Homo sapiens: one gene and its partners. The protein of the gene in region 7 purifies or fractionates together with the protein of the main gene of each other region. This does not show direct contact. Each region holds a gene or a part of one and is shown on either strand. Other genes may lie near its edges.

The links.
Region 1: the proteins of DNASE1L1 (region 7) and RPS6KA3 purify together in Homo sapiens (affinity purification with mass spectrometry; one large-scale study listed by BioGRID and IntAct). This does not show direct contact.
Region 2: the proteins of DNASE1L1 (region 7) and CNTNAP3 purify together in Homo sapiens (affinity purification with mass spectrometry; one large-scale study listed by BioGRID and IntAct). This does not show direct contact.
Region 3: the proteins of DNASE1L1 (region 7) and MR1 purify together in Homo sapiens (affinity purification with mass spectrometry; one large-scale study listed by BioGRID and IntAct). This does not show direct contact.
Region 4: the proteins of DNASE1L1 (region 7) and GPR107 purify together in Homo sapiens (affinity purification with mass spectrometry; one large-scale study listed by BioGRID and IntAct). This does not show direct contact.
Region 5: the proteins of DNASE1L1 (region 7) and SEMA3B purify together in Homo sapiens (affinity purification with mass spectrometry; one large-scale study listed by BioGRID and IntAct). This does not show direct contact.
Region 6: the proteins of DNASE1L1 (region 7) and SIL1 purify together in Homo sapiens (co-immunoprecipitation; 2 studies listed by BioGRID and IntAct, with this or other methods). This does not show direct contact.

Annotation. Positions count from the first base shown.
Region 1 is NC_000023.11:20,169,410-20,172,909, forward strand, and holds part of RPS6KA3 (ribosomal protein S6 kinase alpha-3), read right to left. Parts: intron 3,463-3,500; coding exon 3,337-3,462; intron 83-3,336; coding exon 1-82. UniProt on the Homo sapiens protein: Serine/threonine-protein kinase that acts downstream of ERK (MAPK1/ERK2 and MAPK3/ERK1) signaling and mediates mitogenic and stress-induced activation of the transcription factors CREB1, ETV1/ER81 and NR4A1/NUR77, regulates translation through RPS6 and EIF4B phosphorylation, and mediates cellular proliferation, survival, and differentiation by modulating mTOR signaling and repressing pro-apoptotic function of BAD and DAPK1.
Region 2 is NC_000009.12:39,064,210-39,068,167, forward strand, and holds the end of CNTNAP3 (contactin-associated protein-like 3 isoform 1 precursor), read right to left. Parts: 3' UTR 501-3,958; downstream 1-500.
Region 3 is NC_000001.11:181,057,983-181,060,210, reverse strand, and holds part of MR1 (major histocompatibility complex class I-related protein 1 isoform 1 precursor), read right to left. Parts: 3' UTR 1-2,228. UniProt on the Homo sapiens protein: Antigen-presenting molecule specialized in displaying microbial pyrimidine-based metabolites to alpha-beta T cell receptors (TCR) on innate-type mucosal-associated invariant T (MAIT) cells.
Region 4 is NC_000009.12:130,060,406-130,063,905, reverse strand, and holds part of GPR107 (protein GPR107 isoform 3 precursor), read right to left. Parts: intron 1-3,500. UniProt on the Homo sapiens protein: Has been proposed to act as a receptor for neuronostatin, a peptide derived from the somatostatin/SST precursor.
Region 5 is NC_000003.12:50,272,147-50,275,096, forward strand, and holds part of SEMA3B (semaphorin-3B isoform 1 precursor), read left to right. Parts: intron 1-972; exon of another isoform or gene 973-1,151; coding exon 1,152-1,297; intron 1,298-1,388; coding exon 1,389-1,500; intron 1,501-1,597; coding exon of another isoform or gene 1,598-1,612; coding exon 1,613-1,682; intron 1,683-1,766; coding exon 1,767-1,911; intron 1,912-2,216; coding exon 2,217-2,436; intron 2,437-2,696; coding exon 2,697-2,788; intron 2,789-2,865; coding exon 2,866-2,907; intron 2,908-2,950. UniProt on the Homo sapiens protein: Inhibits axonal extension by providing local signals to specify territories inaccessible for growing axons.
Region 6 is NC_000005.10:138,946,224-138,950,368, reverse strand, and holds the end of SIL1 (nucleotide exchange factor SIL1 precursor), read left to right. Parts: intron 1-2,895; coding exon 2,896-3,252; 3' UTR 3,253-3,645; downstream 3,646-4,145.
Region 7 is NC_000023.11:154,403,496-154,406,254, forward strand, and holds part of DNASE1L1 (deoxyribonuclease-1-like 1 precursor), read right to left. Parts: intron 2,161-2,759; 5' UTR 2,074-2,160; coding exon 1,939-2,073; intron 1,589-1,938; coding exon 1,500-1,588; intron 1,420-1,499; coding exon 1,333-1,419; intron 128-1,332; coding exon 27-127; intron 1-26.

The DNA of each region.
Region 1 (3,500 bases), about 130 Mb from region 7:
GAGTGATAATGTTTGGATGCTGTCCATAACGAAGAAGAATTTCAATTTCTTCTGTTGGGTCTCTCTTGCTTTTATCAATAATCTAAAAGGCAAATGTTTATCACAAAACCTCATCAACTATACAGTTATAAACATTAATTGTTTATAGCTACAGACCTTGGGTATTACCTCATGTAAATAGTGTATAAATAAGCCATTTATCAGTCAGTTTTATTCAACTACCTGGCCAGATTGTTTAATCAGAAAGCCAGTCTTGATATAGATGGCAAGGCTGTAAATTCTAACTCATGAGTCGCATTCCCACCATGCCTCTCCAATCTAAGTTTGTAAGTTTGTAGTAAGTTTAGGACTTAACCAAAAACTCAAAAAGCCTCGAGAAAAGGTACCAAGAACACAGTTAACATATCTTTTCTTCTATCCTTGAGGCCTTAAACATTTGGGAACTCAGTCAACTTCTAACCCCCCATCAATACAGATAATTAAGAGCTAGATATAACACCACCACTAGCATCTGCTTATTGAATTAAGTTTACTTCCTTTAATAAAATGCTTCAATTGAATATCCTGTTAGCTGTAAGCTACTTATAAAAGCTAATTATCTGCTAAGTAGAACAATCTTGTTTTTGAAGTTAGGCAGAAAGCTACATAGAAAATCATACCTAGCATTTTATTTGGTTAGAATTTGGTTTAATTATTATAATAAAGCCCTTTAAAATAGTAATGTAGCTTTCTAACCCTTTTATATTGGCTGCTCCTTAAAAATATTTTTCTTAATGTTTTAATCTGCTCAACTAATATTATATAAAAAAGACAAATTTTGCTTTCTATTCATTCAAAGGGTAGTCTGAAACAAATTAGGTGGCCTTTGTATGTTCAATTTTAAACAGCTTAGTAATTAAGTATGCACTAAATACCCAGACACTCCAGCAACCTAGGAAAGAGGTTACAACTCTCAAGCATGGGTCCAGTCTTCTATCTGAAATGGATTTATAGTTGACCCTTGAACAACACAGGTTTGAACTATGAGGGACCAATTACACGTGGATTTTCTTCTGCTTCTGCCACCCCTGAGACACCAAGACCAACTCCTTCTCTTCTTCCTCCCTCCTCAGCCTACTTAAGGTGAAAATGATGAGGAAAAAGACCTTTATTATGATCCACTTCCATTTAATGAACAGTAAATGTATTTTCTCTTCCTTATATATATTTTTTCTTTTTTTGAGACAGGGTCTTGCTCTGTTGCCCAGGGTGGAGTGTAGTGGCGCAATCACGGCTCACTGCAACCTCAAACCCCTGGGCCCAAGTGATCCTCCCACCTCTACCTCCTGAGTAGCTGGGACCACAGGCACATACCACTACACTCAGAAAATTTTAAAAATTATTTGTAGAGATGAGGTCTGGCTATGTTGCCAAGGCTAGAGTACAGTGGCACATAGCTCACTGCAGCCTGAACCTCCTGAGCTCAAGCAATCCTTCCGTCTCAGCCTCCTGAGTAGCTGGGACTACAGGCACATGTAGCCACGCCTGGCTAATTTTTAAACAATTTTTCTGTAGAGATAGGGTCTTGCTCTGTTGCCCAGGCTTGTCTCAAACTCCTGGCCTCAAGCAATCCTCCCACCTCGGCCTCCCAAAGTGCTAGGATTACAAACGTGAGACACTATGTCTGGCATGATTTTCTTAATAACACTTTCTTTTCTCTAGCTTACTTTATTGTAAGAATACAGTATATAATACATATAACATACAAAATAATCGACTATATATGCTATCAGTGAGGCTTCTGGTCAACAGTAGGCTATGAGCAGTTAAGTTTTGGAGAGTCAAGTTATACGTGGATTTTCAACTGCTTGGGGATCAGCACTCCCAAGTCCTGTGTTATTCAAGGGTAGACTGTACTTGTATAACAGTTCTGTATTTGGAGAACAGGGAAGGTAAACATACAGGTGCCCACTGTAATCAACTGCAAATGATAGTGTGGAATTAGGCAAATGGGTGATTAAGAGGAGAGGTATATGGAATAGACATGCTAATTTAAGAGATGACCTGGGACTAGTCTTTTGAAAACCAGAACACACTGGGAGGGGTCGTTTTTGGCATGGATCTGCTAATCTGAGCCCAGTTTGCATTAGATCTATACTTGTGCTTGTGGACCTCAAATATGTGGTAATTTCAGTAGAATCCAGTTGTGTTGGGATTGGTTTTATGAATCATTTAAGTTACAAAAATCCACAAATAGCTTGGAGATATTTTTGAGGTTTTAGGCATAGTCCTCAAGGTTTCTGTAATTCAAAGGGGCCTCAGGACATTTCTGCTTTTTATGATGTATTTATGGAGGCAAGACACATCCTTAAACTGCCTACCAAATACATTATTAGTCTTTTCTCCTTTCATGTAAGCAATTTGAAAACTTCTATGTATCTTAGATTTCAGTAAGAGCAATGAATAGGAAAATAGAAAATTAAATGTATTTCTTTTAAGAATTTCCTTCTTTAAAATTAGCTTTATTGTCCTTCCAATGAAGCAAATTAAATGTATTTTTATGGTTCATCCTTCTATCTGACAGAAAGCCCTATAGACACTGACGACTTTAAAGCAGTTACATCTAAGTTTAGAAGAGTGATAACAACTAATGTCACTATCTCTCTAAACATGAGCTATGTATATTTATAAACCAGTCCTAAGGTTCAAACAAGTTGAAAGCTTTAGACATTGTTTGAATTGCTTGAGATTGGAGAGCAGAGGTTACTATTCCAAGAAGTGAAAAGAGACTTGAACATAGTGCTTGTTCACTTACGACTAAAGGTTTGAAATTCAAACTTTATCGTAGAGCTAGGTTCCTTGGTTTTTGGCTTAGAAAATTCTGTCTTAGGATACTTGATGAAATTAAAACAGCCAATGATAACGAATTTTATGATAGTGGTTTTTATTCATTAGTTCCCAGATCCTTTTAGATGCAAAGAAAGGTATGAACTTTTTGCCAGAGAAGATGTAAACATACAAAATTTTGCACACAATTTTGAGGAATTTGCTGACACCCTGAGCATAAAATGGGGACTTCTCAGAGTAAAAAGATACTTTAAAAATCACTTGAGGTAAAAAAAGAAAAAAAATCACTTGAGGTGTAAACTGCTACTGCTCTGGGAAAACTAGATATATAACCACCTTACCTTTAGCTCACAGGGTTCTAGATTAAGATCTCTGAAGATCACTAGCCAGATATTTAACTTTTTTATAACAAAAGGCACTTTTAACAACAAGGGGAGTGTAATTTTTAACTGGTACTGACATGCATGAACAAGAACTGTATGAATTGCATTTTAAATAAAAAAAATTTACCTTCACTGCAAACTCCATGTTTGTAGCTTTATGTATACATCTCTTGCAAACAGAGTAGGAGCCAACTCCAATATCTTCTTTTACTTCATATCCATCAGTAAACTGAATACTGTTCCTGTGTAACTGCTACAAAAAATTATAAATTGGTGAAGAGTCCCATAATG
Region 2 (3,958 bases), on a different chromosome or scaffold from region 7:
CTTGGGCCTCTTCTGTCTGCTATTTTTTTTTTTAATATTGCTAATCTCAGGCTATGGTCTGAGAATCAAACAGCAAACATTTTTGCACTTCTATTTTCTAATAAACTATCTGGATTCCTCCTAAAAGTTGGAACTGAGGTAGAGTTGACATCTAATTTCACAGCCATGTTGATACAAATGAAGCAAATCTTTACAATATTTCAATATGTATAATTCCAAGGCACAATGAGCAAGGTATAGGAGTATGTCCCCTGTGTCTAGCTGTTTCTCCAGGCTTCTCCAGAATGATGGATGAAAATGTAATTGGCAAGTCAAATGTCTACTGTGGAAGCCTACAGGAAAAGGGATGTGAAATGCTTGACGTGATGAGGGATGCAGAGTGTTCAGCACTTATTTACTGAGCAGCTCATCACCTGATTGTATAGTATACAATATATGAGAATTTATAGAACAGTGAACATGTAAACACATAGAACAAATAAACATATACAACATATAAACACTGTTTTTAACATTTATTACATACATAGAACATATAAGAATTTATAGAGCAATGAAAATACCACATTTTGACATTTGTATTGTACTGTGAAAGATTTATATGTATTTGTATAAAAAATAAATAAAGGTGATAATCTCTTGTGATTTCCCCAAAATACAGCATCCTTTTCATCTTTTTCCATTATGTAAATATGGTATGATAGAAATATAATATGCTGTGAAGTGATAGACATCATGACATATCAAAATGTATTATATATACACATATATATACATGTACATATTTATTGAAGTATAATTTATATACAAAATATACAAATTCCAAATATGAAATTCAGAGTTTTGACAAATGTCCACACCAATGTAACCATAGTCAATCAAGACATAGAACATTTCCATCACTCCAGAAACTTCCCTTGTGTTTCTCTGCAGTCAACTCCCATCCCACCTCAACCCAGGTAACTACTGATACAATTTCTACTGCTATATCTTAGTTTCGCTTGTTCTAGGACTTCAGAATGTACCCTATAGTGTCTAGATTTATTCATTCAACACAAGGTTTTTTAGATTCAGCCATGTTTGTTGCAGTTACCAGTAGTTTTGTCCATTTTATAGCTGAAGAGTATTTCATTATTAATACAACACAAATTGTTTGTCCATTTTCTTGTTGAAGGTCTTTTAGGCAGTTTACAGTTTGGGGATATTATAAGTAAAGATGCTATAAACGTTCTTGTGTAAGTCTTATAATGGGCATAAGTTTTCATTTCTTTTCAATCTAGGATTGGAATTGTTGGGTCATAGGTTTCATGTATGCTTAATTATATAAAACAATGTTAAACAATTTTTCCTAAGTGGTTGTAGCATTTTACATTCCAACAATAATGTATGAGAATTATAATTGCTCCATATTCTCAACAACACGTGGTACTGACAATATTTTTAATCATAACCATTTTAGTGGGAAGAATAACTCACTGTGGTTTTAATTTGCATTTCCTTAATGACAAAACGATATTGAACATTTTTGTGTGCTTTTTGTCCACTGGCCTAGCACTTTTCGTCATTTTTTCTTATATTCATTATTTTCATTTTATTTTTGCTAATTATTGAGTTGTTAAGAGTTCTTTATGAACTATATTCTGAAAAAAATTTACAGCATTCAAATAAAGTGTTGCAAATATTTTCTCCCAGTCTGTAGCTTGACTCTTATTCTCTTAACAATGTATTTTAAAAGGAGAGTTGTTAATCTTAAGGTCAAATTTATCAGATTTTTATTTTATATCTTGCTATTTGCTTTCTATTTGTCCCATTTGTTCTTTGTCCTCTTTCTCATCTTTTTTGTCTACTTTCAAGCATTTAAAAATTTATTCTATTTCATCGCTGCATTGTAATATTATTGTGTAATATTGTAATATTATCACTGTTTTTGTTACTCTAGCATTTGCTTTAGGGATTACACCATACAGATGTTTTAACTTAAAGATAACTTGTAATAGCCAACTTTTAATAGGCATTATACGACTTTACACACAGTCTAAGAACCTTACAAACTAAACTATATTTCCATTTACTCTAGGTTATTGTTGTCATATATTTTACTTTTACTCATGCTGCAGAACTCACATGACACTGCTATTATTTCTAAACAGCCAATTATCTTTAAAAGATATTTAAGTAATAAGGGCAGGTATTGTATATTTACTTATGGTGTTACTATTGCCAGTGCTCTTCATTTCTTTGTGTGGATCCATGTTTCTATCTGCACAAAGATATTATTCTTTATTTTCCTTCTTCCTGAAAGGCTTTTACACTGTTCTCATAGTCCAGGTTTGCTGATAATATATTACTTTTAACTTTTCTATGTCTGAAAAATATCTTTGTTTCATCCTTTCTTGAAAGACGGTTTTGCTGGGTATAGAAACCTAGGAGAGAGAGTTTTCTGCTTTTGGTTGGAAGATGTTTCACTGGAAGCATGAAAGATGTTGCTCCACTGCCCTTCCCCTTGCATTGCTTCCAAAAAGAAGTCTGGTATCATCCTTGTTTTTCTTCTCTGTGTAAGACTTGTCTTTTTCTCTTTACCACACTGAGTTTTGATCCATTTGCTTATGATGTGTTGTGATGTGGTTTTCTTAATAGCACCCCTACTTGGGGATGTTGAGCTGGGTCTGTGGGTTTATAGTTTGCATCAAATGTGGAAAATGCTTATGTATTAATTTTTAAAAATATTTTTTTCTATCCATCCACTCTCTTTTCTCCTTTGAGAACTCCAAATACACACAGATTAGGCAACTGAAGTTGTCCCACAGATCACCGATACTCTGATTATTCTTTGTTTTTTTTCTGTCTCTGTTTCATTTTGGATGCTTTCTACTGCTATATATATTCAAGTTTATTAATATTTTCTTCTGAAAACTCTCATCTGCCATTAATTACATCCATTGTATTTTTTAATCTTATACATTAACATTGTCATCTCTCGAAGTTTAATTAAAGCCTTTTCTTGTCACATCCTAATCTTTGAAAATACGGAATATAGTCATAATATTTTTCATTAGTAATTCTAACATCTGGGTATGTGCTGGGTCATTTTAGATTGATTTTTATCCTCATTATAGGTCCTATTTTTCTGCCTCTTCACACACTTGGTAATTTTTTATTGTATACCAGACATTGTGATTTTACCTCGTTGGGTGTTGGATTTTTTTTTGATGGAGTCTGGCTCTGTTGCCCAGGCTGGAGTGCAATGGCGCAATCTCGGCCCACTGCAAACTCTGCCTCCCGGGTTCATGCCATTCTCCTGCCCCAGCCTCCCGAGTAGCTGGGACTTCAGGCGCCCAACACCACGCCCGGCTAATTTTTGTATGTTTAGTAGAGACGGGGTTTCCACCTTGTTAGCAGGATGGTCTCCATCTCCCGACCTCGTGATCTGCCTGCCTCGACCTCCCAAAGTGCTGGGATTACAGGCATGAGCCACTGTGCCCGGCCTGGTGTTGGATAGTTTTATGTTACTGGAAATACATGTGAACTTTGCTCAGAGATGCCAATTAGTTATTGGAAACGGTTTGATCTTTTTTTCCAAATCTTTGAAGATTTGTTCAGTGGGGCCGCCATAGTAATACATGGTCTAGGACTTGCCAGGACTGAGGCAAGACCCCTATGAATATTCTACCTAATGCCCTATTAATTATGGGGATTTCTGGTATAGCCCATGGCAACCACCTCTATTCATGGTTGTATGTGAACATGCACTCTCAGTGAGAGTAATATTGTCCCCAAAACGACAGAAATTAGTTTTTTTGGGGGGGATGGGAGAAGTGAAGAGAAGAAAAATATTCTTTTTGTGTAAAGCCCAGATATACGTATAGTACTAAAGAGATATGCAGTGCATGTGCGATATTAAAATTTCAGGGCGGGCGCAGTGGCTTACGCCTGTGATACCAGCGCTTTAGGAGGCTGA
Region 3 (2,228 bases), on a different chromosome or scaffold from region 7:
AAGCCATGCATGCAGGGAGAACACCAAATGAAGACTAGAGTTACGCAGCCAGAAGGCAAGGAACAACCAGAAGATAGGAGGGAAGCCTGGAACAGATCCTTTCCCAGTCCCTTTAGAGGCAGCATGTTTCTGCCAACACTTCATTTTGAACTTCTGGCCTCCAGAACTGTGAAACAATAAATTTCTGTTGTTCCAAGCCACCCAGTTTTTGTGGTACTTTTAAACGACTACCCTTGGAAACCAGTACAAGGTGGAACGGGGAGACGATGGAGAACATGACATTGTGACATGTTGCATCTTTCCCAAAATGGCCACAATGATATCTCCCAACTACATGCTCTTCTTACAATGTAACTCTGACAATCTTCCTATTGAGTGTTGGGTTCTATACACCCTCTTTTTGAACCTGAGCAGGATTTTATGACTTCTTCACCAATGAGAGTATCACAAGAATGACATTTTGTGACTTCCAAGATTAGATTATATAAATGCTATGCACTTTGACTGTGATCTCTTGGGATACTCACTCTGAGGGAAGCTAGCTGCCATGTAAGCAGTGACTGCCCTGAGGCCACCATGTTGTGAGGAAGCCCAACCCACACAGAGAGATTACATGGAGAGTTCCTGAGACTACATGGAGGAGATGTAGCTGATGCCTGGCCACCACCCCTGGCTGCCCCATTTCTGTTCCAGCCACCACTTGCCTCCAACTCCATGAGAAGCCAGAACTGCTTACCCAAGCCATATCCAAATTCCTGACCCATAGAAACTATGAAAGAAAATAAAATGGGTATTGTTTTAAACCAATAGGTTTTGGGTTTTGTTACACAGTCTGTGGGGTTTGGGGCAACCAGAAGCTAGAAGGACAATGGAGAAAGGGAGGCCAGAGTGAAAAGGAGATGCAGAGATGTTACAGAGACATACAATGCTCAAAGATGGCAATTTCCAAAGAAAGAGAGGTGAAGGCAGCTCAGGCAGTGGAATCATCAACCTCTAAAAAGCACAATGTACTGAATGTCCTGAAGCTATTGGGGAAAAAAAAAAGATGAAAAGGGCAATGCAGTTAAGTGGGAAACACCTGGGCTGGGAGATGCCTGTGCTTCTTCCTAGCTCTGCTGCCCACAGCACATGGCTATGGGCAAAGCCCCCTGTCCTCCTTGGAGAACATTCTGTGAACTAATACACTGTGTGTGAGAAAATAGCAAACTCCAGAGAGCAGGTGCTAACAAGCAAGAATGTGTCCCCTTGCACCAATTCTGGGGTCATCAAGCACTCTACAGATTGTGATTTAGTTGTTCTTATGTAGATTTTCCTGCTGGAAGGTGTACTGACCAGCTGAGACAGATATCTGACCCACTTAGCAATTGTGTTTCTCACAGTAAATTAATACATTGGCACTCCACTTTATATATCCATCTGATCACTTTGTGGGGACACTAGACCTGCATATGTGAGGACAAAGACCCCAGACAGTGGTTTTCAAAATAAGGTGTGACTGCTCTGTGTGACTCTGGCAGAAAATGATCAGCTGGCCTCCCTAGTGGACAATCTGTTCCTCATAGCTACAAGTGCAAAAACATCTTCTCTCAGGCCAAAAAAAGAAGAGGAGAAACCAAGTCATTCCTCAGAAATAAGGAAAGGATCACAACTTGGAAATCATGGGAGTAAGAGGAGAGAGGAAAGGAGGACTGGCCCCTGATGGGAGAGCTCAGAAACTCTCGATGGAGTCTTGTTGGATTTTTCACCCTGCTCTTTAAACTGCTTTCTCTCCCTTAAATGTACCACATCAAAAACATCTGCCATTTAAATTTACCACATCTTGGTCTATATGCACATCAAAAACAAACAAACAAAAAAAACAAAAACAGGTAATAAATACAGTGGAGTTAAAAAAAAAAAAAAGAACAGAGTTGAACAGGTTTCTCATCTAGTGTTCTTGATCCAAAATATTCAGTAAAGAAAATTCAAAGCCAAAACATAGCTGTGGCAATAGCACAGTTATTTGTTTTTAATGTTTAGATCATGGTGTCAAATATTTCATAGGTTATGATTACTGAGCATCTGTACTCAACAACCATGAAGTAATGAAGCAATAACAAGGCTAAAACAATTAAGAAGTAATATAATCTTCAACCATCTATAGTAAAATGAAGGTTGCAGAATTTTAGGTATTACTTACTTATTTTATTTTTATTTTTTTGAGATGGAGTTTCACTCTTGTTGCCCAG
Region 4 (3,500 bases), on a different chromosome or scaffold from region 7:
TTGAATCTGGGAGATAGAGGCTGCAGTGAGCCGAGATCGTGCCACTGCATTCCAGCCTGGGTGACAGAGTATGACCCTCAAAAAAAAAAAAAAAAGAATAAACTCCATGAAGAAAAAAATCTATACAGTAGTAGTAAAGGGAAGCAATACAAAGGAAAAAGAAAAAAAAAGACAAAGCAATCACTGGAATTTCCCAGGGCTGTTTTATTAAGAAACCCCAGCAATCAAATATTTTATTATACTACACTGGTATTTTCAGAAGGAAGCACACTGGCATACATGCCACCAAACAGCAGTCACTAAAAAAGGCATGTTTGATGTGGAGTGTGGAAACTTGAATAAAGAAGAAAAACAAATAATAGGAAAAAATAATTAAAAACTGAAAAAAATTTTAAATAATTTAAAAAGCATGTTATAGCCGGGTACGGTGGCTCATGCCTGTAATCCCAGCACTTTGGGAGGCCAAGGCGGGCAGATCATGAGGTCAGGAGATTGAGACCATCCTGGCTAACACGGTGAAACCCTGTCTCTACTAAAAATACAAAAAATTTGCCGGATGTGGTGGCAAACGCCTGTAGTCCCAGCTACTCGGGAGGCTGAGGCAGGGGAATGGCATGAACCCGGGAAGTGGAGCTTGCAGTGAGCTGAGATCATGCCATTGCACTCCAGCCTGGGCGACAGAGCGAGACTCCGTCTCAAAAAAAAAAAAGCATGTTATATTTTTATGTATACACACATGCTAAAGAGCAGCTGCTTAATAGATATTCACACTTAAAAGAGATGAAACCCTGAAATGTCTGTTTAAAAAAGATCATTTACAGTGTACACTGAGGTTAGGAGTCATTCTAGTTCAAATACGCCAGACATTGGTATTAAAATAACCAAATCTTCCCTGTCTTATCCTCTCATAAAGAGTTCAGGACCAAGGTGGTAGGAGTGCTTGAGACCAGGAGTTCAAGACCAGCCTGGACAAAGTAGCAAGACCCCATCTCTACAAAATATCCACATAAAAAAATTAGTCAGATGTGGTGGTGTGCACCTGTAGTACTAGCTACTAGGCAGGCAGGCTGAGGCAGGAGGATCCCTTGAGCCCAAACGTTTGAGGCTGCAGTGAGCTATGATTGCACCACTGAGTTCTAGGCTGGGTGACAGAGTGAGACACTCTTATTTAAAAAAAAATAAAAGACGGATGGACAGACAAACGGAAGGAAGGAAGGAAGGAAGGAAGGAAGGAAGGAAGGAAGGCAGGCAGGCAGGCAGGCAGGCAGGCAGGAAGGCAGGAAGGCAGGCAGGCAGGCAGGCAGGCGAAAGAGCCACCATGCTATATCATAACTACCTGTCTATGGGCCTGTCTCATTTGTATATCTCTAGTGCCTAGCACATAGTAGGTATTTAATAAACGTTGAATGAATGAACTACTACTTAGATCAGTCTACTACTCAGTGCTATTATTATTATTATTATTATTATTATTATTATTATTATCATTTTCGAGACAGGGTCTTGCTCTTGTCACCCAGGCTGGAGTGCAATAGCGCAATCTCAGCTCACTGCAACCTCCGCCTCCCAGGTTCAAGCAATTCTCTTGCCGCAGCCTCCCGAGTAGCTGGGATTACAGGCATGCGCCACCACGCCGGCTAATTTTTTGTATTTTTAGTAGAGATGGGGTTTTACCATGTTGGCCAGGCTGGTCTCAAACCCGACCTCAGGTGATCTACCCGCCTTGGCCTCCTAAAGTGCTGGGATTACAGGTGTGAGCCACCGTACCCAGCCTCAGTGCTATTATTTTACATAATTTTATCTAATCCTCATAACTACCCTGTGGGAAAGCTACCATTATCCTTATTTTACAAAGTAGGAAACTAAGAATCCGAGTGGCACACGAACAATCAATCTCTTTCACTTCCTCTTCCAGACATAAGCTCTAACCTCATTTTGCCTTGGCTAATGCTTTTTTTTTTGAGACAGAGTCTCACCCTGTCACCCAGGCTGGAGTGCAGTGGTGCAATCTCGGCTCACTGGCCTCACTGGCCTACCAGGTTCAAGTGGTTCTCCTGCCTCAGCCTCCCGAGTAGCTGGGATTACAGGTGCCCATCACCATGCCCGGCTAATTTTTGTATTTTTAACAGAGAAAGTATTTCACCATGTTGGCCAAGCAGGTTTTGAACTCCTGACCTCAGGGGATCTGCCCACTTTGGCCTCTCAAAGTGCTGGGATTACAGGCGTGAGCCACCACGCCCGGCCTGCCCTGGCTAATTCTTACTCTTCCAGTCTCAGCTTTAATGTCACTTCTTCAGGAAACTACTTCCCTATGCCAAAAACCAGGGCAGGTTCCTCATCACGCAGAATAAAATCCACACATCCTACCATGGCCTCCAGGCTCATGTGTACCTCTCCCCTAGATCACTCTGCTCCAGCCATAGGGGCCTCCATAGACATGGGAACATGAAGATGCTCCCACTCAGGGACTTTGCACTTCCTGTTCCTCTGCCTGTGATATTCTTCCCTAGACCCTCAAATGCCTGGCTCATTCATTAAGTCCACTCACATATTAACTCTTCAGAGTCTCTCTCCACAGTAATTTCCAATTCCATTACTCTTGGTTCCAATACTGTTTTATTTTCTCATCAATTTATCCCATTTTTAAATTACTTGTGCATTCAGGTGTTTAGAAGCTAGCTGTCCATTACCACTAGAATGAATACTCCACAAAGGTCGGGGCTTAGTCCCGCTCACTGCCTCAGCCTGTGTCTAGAAGTGCCCACCCGGTATATAAAAGACACCTGAAGAGTATTTGTTGAATGAGTAAGAGACAGAAGGCATGTGTTGCGAAGTCATCCAGTAAGCTTAATGTCACTCATTTAAGTCAATGAATGTATATTGGCAGATTTTAAGTCAAAATAAAGTTTCAGGTGCATACTCCTTTTGTGTGATGTTCTGCTTTAACTTATCTTTTCATCCAACATCTTCTAGTCTAGATCCCATCAGCGAGGAAGGCTTCTAATATGACTAGCCCAGAAGTTACACTGCACTCGACAGCAGTGAGGACTGGCTATTCCCAAGTTCTGCTCTAAACTACATGCCTTGCTAAGCTGCTGACACAAAGTCTAGAGTATTTGAGTTATAATTTGTGGATAATTATCATAGAAGTATCAAACCCAAGAAATGCCCAAATTTCTGAGGCTTTAGCAAAGCACTTCCTGTCCACTTGCTCATTTGCAGCATCTACTTGAAAGCCAGAATGATCAGTCATCAAAATATTGTGTTTTTAACACAATATAAAAATCATATTTAGACAATTTTTGATGTAAAACTCAGATTAGCCGAGCACAGTGGCAAGCATCTGTAGTCTTAGCTACTTTGGAGGCTGAAACGGGAAGATGGCTTGAGCCCAGGAGTTGGAGGCTATCGTGCACTATGTTTGCACTGGTGAATAGCCACTGTACTCCAGCCAGGGCAACACAATGAGACCTTATCTCAAAAAAAAAAAAAAAAAAAAA
Region 5 (2,950 bases), on a different chromosome or scaffold from region 7:
CTGTAGTCCTGGCTAGTCAGGAGGCTGAGATGGAAGGATCACTTGAGCCCAGGAGTTGGAGGCTGCAGTGAGCCATGATGCTGCCACTGCAGGACAGAGCAGACCCTGTCTCTAAATCAAATAAAAATTAAATAAGGGCTATGGGCTGGTGGGCACAGTGGCTCACACCTGTAATCTCAGCACTTTGGGAGGCGGAGGCAGGCAAATCGCTTGAGGCCAGGAGTTTGAGACTAGCCTGGCCAACATGGTGAAACCCTGTCTCTACTAAAAAATACAAAAATTGGCCGGGTGCAGTGGTGTGCACCTGTAATCCCAGCACTTTGGGAGGCTGAGGCGGGCGGATCACCTGAGTTCAGGCATTTGAGACCAGCCTGGCCAACATGGTGTAACCCCGTCTCTACTAAATATACAAAAATTAGTCCGGCATGATGGTGTGCATCTGTAATCCCAGCTACTCAGGAGGCTGAGGCAGGAGAATCGCTTGAACCTAGGAGGCGGAGGTTGCAGTGAATGGAGACTGTGCCACTGCATTCCAGCCTGGGCAATAGAGCGAGACTTCGTCTCAAAAAAAAAAAAAAAAGCCAGGTGTGGTGGTAGGCTCTGACTGTAATCTCAGCTACTTGGGAGGCTGAGGTTGCAGTGAGCCGAGATCGAGCACTCCAGCCTGGGCGACAGAGCGAGACTGTCTCAAAAAATAAATAAATAAACAAATAATAATAATAATAATAATAATAAAGAGCAATGGGACCCAGCAGAAGGATTTGAAGCAGGAGTGGGGAGCATCTGGTTATGCTAGAGAGGAAGATTCATGAGTGAAGGTGAAACCAGATTACCTCATCTCCCTCCTACCCCAGCCTAAGGTGCTGGGCGACGTGTGGGGCGAGATCGGAGGCTAGCCGGGCTTCACGCCTGCGCCCCCAGGTAGCCACGGTCTCTGCTGCCCCCTCGCGGCTGCTTCTTGCCTCGCAGGCCCTGATCCTTTGGATTCGGTCCGCGCAGAGCGCCAACTGGACATGGTGCTAGAGGTTGGGTGGTCAGACACTGTGATCCCGGGTGCTGTGCCCGCACTACGGGAAGGGGAAGCAGCGCGTGGGTCTCGCATCAGGAGGCAAGGCCAGGACCCGCTGACCCATGCCTCCTGCCGCGGTCAGAGCCCAAGTTTGTCAAGGTATTTTGGATCCCGGAGAGCGAGAACCCAGACGACGACAAAATCTACTTCTTCTTTCGTGAGACGGCGGTAGAGGCGGCGCCGGCACTGGGACGCCTGTCCGTGTCCCGCGTTGGCCAGATCTGCCGGGTGAGGAGTCCCTGGGCCACACCCGGCGACCCTGCCCCTACCCCTTTGCCTGCCCTGGTCTCGCCCTCATCCCCTTTGATCGTCCCGGCAGAACGACGTGGGCGGCCAGCGCAGCCTGGTCAACAAGTGGACGACGTTCCTGAAGGCGCGGCTGGTGTGCTCGGTGCCCGGCGTCGAGGGCGACACCCACTTCGATCAGCTCCGTGAGTGCGGGAGTGGGTATGGGGTTGGGGAGGGGGGCAGCGGCGCAGACTCCGGGAGCCCCCGCCGCAGCGGGGCTGTGCGCCCTACCCCAGCTAGGCCCCTTCCCCGCAGAGGATGTGTTTCTGTTGTCCTCGCGGGACCACCGGACCCCGCTGCTCTATGCCGTCTTCTCCACGTCCAGGTGAGGGGCAGGAGGTAGGGAGCGCCCGGGGCGGGCCGCTGGGCTCCACCCGGCCCCTCACCTCGCCCTGGTCTTCGCCTCCAGCAGCATCTTCCAGGGCTCTGCGGTGTGCGTGTACAGCATGAACGACGTGCGCCGGGCCTTCTTGGGACCCTTTGCACACAAGGAGGGGCCCATGCACCAGTGGGTGTCATACCAGGGTCGCGTCCCCTACCCGCGGCCAGGCATGGTTCGTAGCCCAGGGACTTCTGCTACAACCCACTTCAAAGCCTCAAGGGTTTGAGAACTTGGCCTGGGGTCTTCTTGGTGAATGTGGTTTCTTCCTTTAGTTATGGGTGGGAAAACGTTTCCATCATAAGACAAGGCTTGTTTCCCGCCTCTGACTTCCTAGGGCAAGGCTGATCTCCTCTCTAATTCTCAGGGCAGGGTTCTGTCCCCATCCCCCTCCATGTTCCCAGAGGCTGGGCATGGAGGGCTGCCTATCAAGCCCCCATATCTATATCCCTGCTGTGCCTCCCTTTCCCCCACCCCCAGTGCCCCAGCAAGACCTTTGGCACCTTCAGTTCCACCAAGGACTTCCCAGACGATGTCATCCAGTTTGCGCGGAACCACCCCCTCATGTACAACTCTGTCCTGCCCACTGGGGGGCGCCCTCTTTTCCTACAAGTTGGAGCCAATTACACCTTCACTCAAATTGCCGCGGACCGGGTTGCAGCCGCTGACGGACACTATGACGTCCTCTTCATTGGCACAGGTCAGGGTCCCTCCACAGCGACCCCCAGGCTCCCAGCCAGGCCCTGTGGGCTGCTGATGGAAGCTCTCCCTGTTCAGTCCCATCTCCACATCCTTTCCTGGGCTGTGTCTCCACCCTGTGGATGCTGCCCAACCCACACTCTTCCAGTCCACACTCTTCACAACCCAAACATGCTGAGGGTAGACGCCTCAAAGGCGAGGAGACACTAGCCCCAGCTGTCCGGGAGCACCAATGGTCATTACCCCTTCTCATCCCTGCAGACGTTGGCACGGTGCTGAAGGTGATCTCGGTCCCCAAGGGCAGTAGGCCCAGCGCAGAGGGGCTGCTCCTGGAGGAGCTGCACGTGTTTGAGGTGAGGCCTCACCCCCAGTCGCCCGGGACCCCCCCACCCCACTAAGCCCTGACCCCGTCGCCCCTCCTCCCTCTCAGGACTCGGCCGCTGTCACCAGCATGCAAATTTCTTCCAAGAGGGTGAGTGACCAGGATGGGGGTCGGGGTGGGATGGACTGAGCTT
Region 6 (4,145 bases), on a different chromosome or scaffold from region 7:
CCCAACTCTCTGTCTTTGCCTGTTTCTCTCTCTTCTCTTGTTAAAGCTGCAGAAATCCAGTTTCTTAGAACAGCAGGCAGCCATGTGGTGCTCAGATCCAATTGATAAGGCCTGGGCACAGTTCAGGTTCTGGGACTGGGCCAGTGAGCCTGGAGAAGGACATGTCAGCTGGCTGGGCATTTCCCAGGGAAACTGGGCTCTGTTCTCTGGTGTCTTGGGTGTGTGTCCCTGCTGCCCCCAGCCCTGGCATCCTGGGCACTATGGCACTGACACATTGCTAGCACACTACCACCAGGCAGGCTCACCAAGGCTGCCCCGAGGCTGCCGGCCCCGGGAGCCTGCCTCTGGAAGCTTTGGGGTGCTGACATGATTGGGGAGGGGAGGACTGGCATCTCTCTACAAACAGTACAGAAATGGCCCTCTTCTTTCAGGGAGGACAGCAGATAAATTTCAGCCAGAGAGATTTAGGACACACTGTACTTGGGCTGAGGCAGTCAGGGCTTCTCTGTTCTTGTGATTTCTTTTTTCTTTTTTCTTTTCTTTTCTTTTTTCTTTTTTTTTTTTTTTTTTGAGACAGGGTCTCTCTCTGTCACCCAGTGGCACGATCTTGGCTCACTGTAAACTCTGCCTCCCAGACTCAAGTGATCCTCCCACCTCAGCCCCCTGAGTAGCTGGGACTACAGGTCCATGCCACCATGCCTGGTTAATTTTGTTCGTTTTTTGTAGACAGGGTCTCACTATGTTGCTCAGGCTGGTCTTGAACTCCTGGGCTCAAGCAGTCCTGCCTCAGCTTCCCAAAGTATTGGAATTATAGGCGTGAGTCACTAAGTCCAGCCTCTTGCAGCGCTTAAGAATGAAGACCTAGCCAAGCTAGGGGTGGGTCCAGAGCTGCCTGAAGGTGGAGGGACATGAGCTGTCCACCACGATGGAGGGGTGCCATGCAGCTCGGGGATCACTGCAGCATGTTGTCATGACAGCCAAGGACTGTGGAATTCCCATGGGCAATGTGACACCCCCATCAGGGTGCTGGGGTCTGCCAGGCCCCAGGCAGTCCTCATATGTACCTTGGCCTGTGAGAGGACCTCTACTGAGAGACCATGCCCTGACATCTGGGCTTCTGCAGTGGTGAGATGCCTGCCTGGGGTTTGGATTCCATGGCCTCTGGTGCATCTGAGGAGCTGAAGGGCCGCAGGGGGACCCTGCCTGCCTGTGCTGCCTGCTGTGCCGGGTGCTGGGAAAATAATCCGCAGTCCCTGTCGTCCCTGAGCTTTCAGGCAGATGTTTATCAGAGAATTCCCCTGAGCTTGTGTTGTAGTCTGTCTGCTGCTGCTTTAACAGAATACCCGGGACTGGATAATATAAAGAAAAGGCAGTTTTTGGCTCATGATTCGGGAGGCTGGGAAATCCACGATTGGGTGGGTGCATCTGGCGGGAGCCTTTGTGTTGCATGACAACATTGTGGAAGGTGAGAGGGCAAGAGCACTTGCGGAAAAAAGCATGCTGGGCCGGGCTTGCTCTCTAGAATAACAACCGCTCTCCCGTAAGGAACCCGCTGCCCTCCTGACCTAGGCAGCTCCTCTCAATACTGCTGCCTTGGGAATTAAGCTTCCAACACTTGAACTTTTAGGGAACACACTCAAACCACAGCAGCATATAAGCAGAGAAGGCCAGTCAGGGGAGGCCGGTCAGTGGCGGTGAGGTGTGCAGGGAGCCGTGGAGTGAATGGGGCCAATGCGGGGGTGCACCTGGAAGTCGGAGCTGCGCCTCCAGAGGCCCCAGGGGAGAGTTAGAGTGACAGGAGTGGGTGTGAGTGGGTCCAGGCCGCGCACAGTGGGGGCAGAGCCTGCAGAGCCTCGCAGTCCCAGGGAAGGGATTGATTTTGTCTTTATCACCCGCAATGCCAGGCTGTGAGGGTTTGGGGGCTGGAGGAGAGGGTGAGAGCAGGAGGCACTGGATCGCAGGACACAAGGGACAAAGGTGGAGCTGACAGAATTGGGGTGTGTTTTGGAAGCGAAGCTGGCAGGACTGAGGGGTGAAGTAGGAAAGGACTAGGGGATACCTCTCAGCCTCTCCTGTCCCAGGATGCAGGATTGCACCCCTCCTCAGTTTCCTCTGCCAGCCCCAATCAGCCCCACGACTTCCTGCTGCCGCAGGAAGCACAGGTGGTCCACTGTGGCCTCCTCTTCTCCTGGGCTTCCCTCTTGCCTTGTGCATCTTCCCTGTGCTTCATTCTCCCCTGGAGTTAGGGCAGGCATTCCTTCTTTCTCCATACAGGCACACTTCCTACAGCTGCACGGGAGATCTCTGCCCCCTCCCAACCCTCTACCTCTGACCTTCAGGTAACCTGCCTGCTTGTCATGGTTCAGGTGTTGGCTTTCCCGCTGCTGGTAGCCCGGCAGGATTGGCTCCCACCATGTTCTGCTGATAGAGCTGGGCTTCTGCGCTTTACAGACAGGCTGAGTTTCTCCACTTAGGAGGTGATGACGATGAGTCTCAGGGAGGCTAAGTGCCAGCCATGGTCATTCAGCAAGTCAGTGGTGGAGCAGGAATTTGAAGCCAGCCTGTCTGCCTCCATGCTGCACTGTTAGATTACATTTATGCTATTTGGGAATTAGTTAATTTTTATTCTCCTGCTAGACCTTAAGCTCCTTGAGGGTAAGACTATGTCTCCATCGTGGTTTCTTCAGCACCTGGCACCACACAAGTGTTTCTGTTGGTGGATGAATGAATGAATAGACAGACAGACTTGGGGATAGAGGAAGAGGTGGGCCCTCAGGGGTCAGCCTCGTGCCTTCCTGTCTGAAGGGCAGAGCTAGCCAGGTGTGAGCTAACTGCTCCCTGTGTGTTCTCTCCCCACCCCCACCCTACCTGGCCTGCGGCTGTGGCGGATGGCAGATGTTCGCCGAGGAGGAGGCTGAGCTGACCCAGGAGATGTCCCCAGAGAAGCTGCAGCAGTATCGCCAGGTACACCTCCTGCCAGGCCTGTGGGAACAGGGCTGGTGCGAGATCACGGCCCACCTCCTGGCGCTGCCCGAGCATGATGCCCGTGAGAAGGTGCTGCAGACACTGGGCGTCCTCCTGACCACCTGCCGGGACCGCTACCGTCAGGACCCCCAGCTCGGCAGGACACTGGCCAGCCTGCAGGCTGAGTACCAGGTGCTGGCCAGCCTGGAGCTGCAGGATGGTGAGGACGAGGGCTACTTCCAGGAGCTGCTGGGCTCTGTCAACAGCTTGCTGAAGGAGCTGAGATGAGGCCCCACACCAGGACTGGACTGGGATGCCGCTAGTGAGGCTGAGGGGTGCCAGCGTGGGTGGGCTTCTCAGGCAGGAGGACATCTTGGCAGTGCTGGCTTGGCCATTAAATGGAAACCTGAAGGCCATCCTCTTTCTGCTGTGTGTCTGTGTAGACTGGGCACAGCCCTGTGGCCGGGGGGTCAGGTGAGTGGTTGGGTGATGGGCTCTGCTGACGTGCAGGGCTCAGCCCAGGGCATCCAGGAACAGGCTCCAGGGCAGGAACCTGGGCCCAGGAGTTGCAAGTCTCTGCTTCTTACCAAGCAGCAGCTCTGTACCTTGGGAAGTCGCTTAATTGCTCTGAGCTTGTTTCCTCATCTGTCAGGAGTGCCATTAAAGGAGAAAAATCACGTAGAAAGCTTCACACTAGTGCTGGCACCCCCCAGCTGTGAGGTAAGGCAGGGAATCATCTCACTGCCCCTCTATCGGTGCCCACATAACAGCCTCAAGGCCGCTGACCTGGCCGGCGCCTGAGGCCTGTCCATACACTGGTGCTGTGGTGACCCAGGCAGCTGATGGGCTTGACAGCTGCTGGAGTGATGGGTGCTGGAGCAATGGGTGCCGGGGTGGGGTGCTGAGAGGTGCTGGACTCTGGAGGCCCAGGGGCCAGGCCTTACTCTGGGAGAAAGCTGGCAGTGGGAGCCCAGGGGAGCCCAGGCCTGCCTGGCCCACCTGACAGGGGAGAAGTGCCTCTCTGTGGCCTTGCACCACTTCTGTGTCCAAGCAGAAACAGGGCCAAGCCCAAGGAGGAGGCCTCAGAGCTGGGAGCAGCCGTGCCTGGCGAGTCCCGGCCCCTACCCAGGCTGGCGGAGTCCCGGGCTGGAGCTGGCTGCAGGTTGCCATGGCAACCCGGG
Region 7 (2,759 bases):
TACCAAGCCCACCCTTCCCTTCCTACCATTGCTGGGCAAAGAGAACTGGGCCACAAATGGCTCCCGGGCAAAGACGTCATCCTCATCGTTGTACACGTAGGAACTCAGGACCTGTGTTTTGTGTGACCTGGGAGGACAAAGGGATGGGCAGCAGTGGCCCCACGTCTTTGATTTTGGCTTGCAAGTGCCAAACGGCGCTCAGGGAGGGGCCCTCCACTAACAGCGGCAATGTGGGCACAGCCCTCCCAACCTGTCTCTAGAACTTTCAAAAATCAGGCATAATTCATATGCCATAAAATTCACCTGCTTCAAGTATACAACACGGTTCTTTTGTACATTCATAAGGCTGTGCAACTATTTCTACAATCAATTTTAAAACATTGGTATCCATTACTCCTAATAAAAACATAACATCCATTACCAGTTACTCTCCATTCTCCCCTCCCCCCAGCCCCTGCAACCATTAATCTGTTCTCTATCTTGTACATTTGCCTATTCTGGATATTTCATATGAATGAAATCAGCTCATCAATGTTTTCTGCGTTCGTCCATATGCTGTGGCACGTCTGTGCTTCATTCCTCTTTCTGGCTGAATAATATTCCACGGACTGGGTATAGTACATTTTGACATTTGGACACTTTGATGTCATTCTTTTTTTTTTTTTTTTTTTTTTTGAGACATGGTCTCACTCTGTTGCTCAGGCTGCAGTGCACTGGCACAATCATAGCTCACTGCAGCCTTGAACTCTTGGGTTCAAGTGATCCTGCTGCTTCAGCCTCCCAAAGCGTTGGGATTACAGGCATGAGCCACTGTACCCTGCCTACCCAGTAATTTTGGAGCGCATACCAGATGTCATATCATTTTATTTATATAGAGAATCAGTTCTCCTTCCCTGCAGCCTCCCTTGCCCTCTGGATCCTGACTCCAAAGGGCTCCCTGCCAGCCTGTCCTCCCAGGGACTTAGAAGATCGGGTCTACCCAAGGCCCATAAGTGGTCCCCACGGAGCCTCTTCCCAGGAGCTGCAGCCCTTGCTGGCCACTTTCATAGAGGGGGCCAGCCACACCCTGAGCCCCAGCAGCTCCCACAGGAGAGAGGAGGAGGGACCCCACATTTGTGCTTATAGAAGGAAGGCCTCCTGCTCTATGGACACTCTGGCGGGGGTCGAGGATGGGAAGAGCCCAGAATAAAAGGTGTTGAGAAGAGAAAGCATGCAAAGCAGGTGAGGCTGTCCCAGGATGGGGGGCCTGTGGCCCCGGGGACTAATGAGCCTACCTCACATTAGGGCCAAGGACCGCCCCCCACCCTGCTGCGCTGCCAGCTCCGTGCTCACCGATAGAAGTACACATACGTCTCCATGTAGGTGCTGCGCCCCAGCTGGGGGCTGCTCAGGGTGCTGTAGGGCCCAGAGCCATCAAATCTGCCAAGAAAAGGGGAGGCGGGGTCAGGGCCTCAAGCCTCTGGGTGTGCCCCTGATTAGACCCACAGAATCTTCCTCACCGATTGAGTTCTCGAAGCAGGAGCGGGATGGCGCTGCCGGAAGAGTCCACCACCTCCTGCAGCACCATGATGTCACAGCGAGCCAGTATCTGTGGGACATCAGGAAGGCCAGCCTGACTCAGTGCCAACTGCCCTGAGAGGAGGCAGTGGGCCCAGGGGACTGGCACTGTTGTGGCCCAGAGTGTTAAGGCTCACTGACTGCAGCCCACAGAAAGCAGTGGGACTGGAAATGCCCCAGGAAAAGACTCATCCCACCCACATGTCACCTGTTTCACAGAGGAGGAGACTGAGGCCAGCAGCAGGCAAGCGCCTGCGCTGCATCTCCGTGCCACACCTCTTCTTCTCCCCTCTTCTCTAGAACATACCCCTGGTCAGGCAGGGATGGGGGCTTTGGCTCATGGTGGTTAGGGGCACGGCTTCCCTGAAGTGATGAACTTACCCGAACTAAGGTGTCCATCACCTGCTCCCTGGCCACCTTGGCCAGTGTCAGCCGCTGGGCATTGAAGGCGCAGATGCGAAAGGCCTGGGCCCCATTGGCCAGGATGAGGAAGAGGAGTGCAGTTGGGTAGTGCATGGCTGTGTGTGGCTGCCGGGGACACCCCAGGAATCCAGGCTGCCCCAGGGTGCGCTCTCACTGGGCTCAGTTCTGGCTCTGGAAGCGCTGAAATATGGAACAGAGAAAGTGGCACTAGCTGCTGCCCAGCACCAGCCTCCCAGTGACCTCCCGAGATCATACCACTGCACTCCAGCCTGGGTGACAGAGTGAGACTCTGTCTCCAAAAAAAAAAATTGTTTTTGAGACAGAGTCTTGCTCTGTGAAGATCAAGCCAAGATCGCACCACTGCACTCCAGCCTGGGCGACAATAAGACTCCGTCTCAAAAAAAAGTGAAATCCTACAGTATTTGTCTTTTTGTGACTGGCTCATTTCACTGAGCAAAATGTCCTCAAGGGTCATTCATGTTGGAGCATATGTCAGAATTTTTTTTTTTTTTTTGAGACGGAGTCTCACTCTGTCGCCCAGGCTGGAGTGCAGTGGCGCAAACGCGGCTCACTGCAAGCTCCGCCTCCTGGGTTCACGCCATTCTCCTGCCTCAGCCTCCCGAGTAGCTGGGACTACAGGTGCCTGCCACACGCCCGGCTAATTTTTTGTATTTTTAGTAGAGATGGGGTTTCACCATGTTAGCCAGAATGGTCTTGATCTCCTGACCTCGTGATCTGCCCGCCTCGGCCTCCCAAAATGCTGGGATTACAGGCGTGAG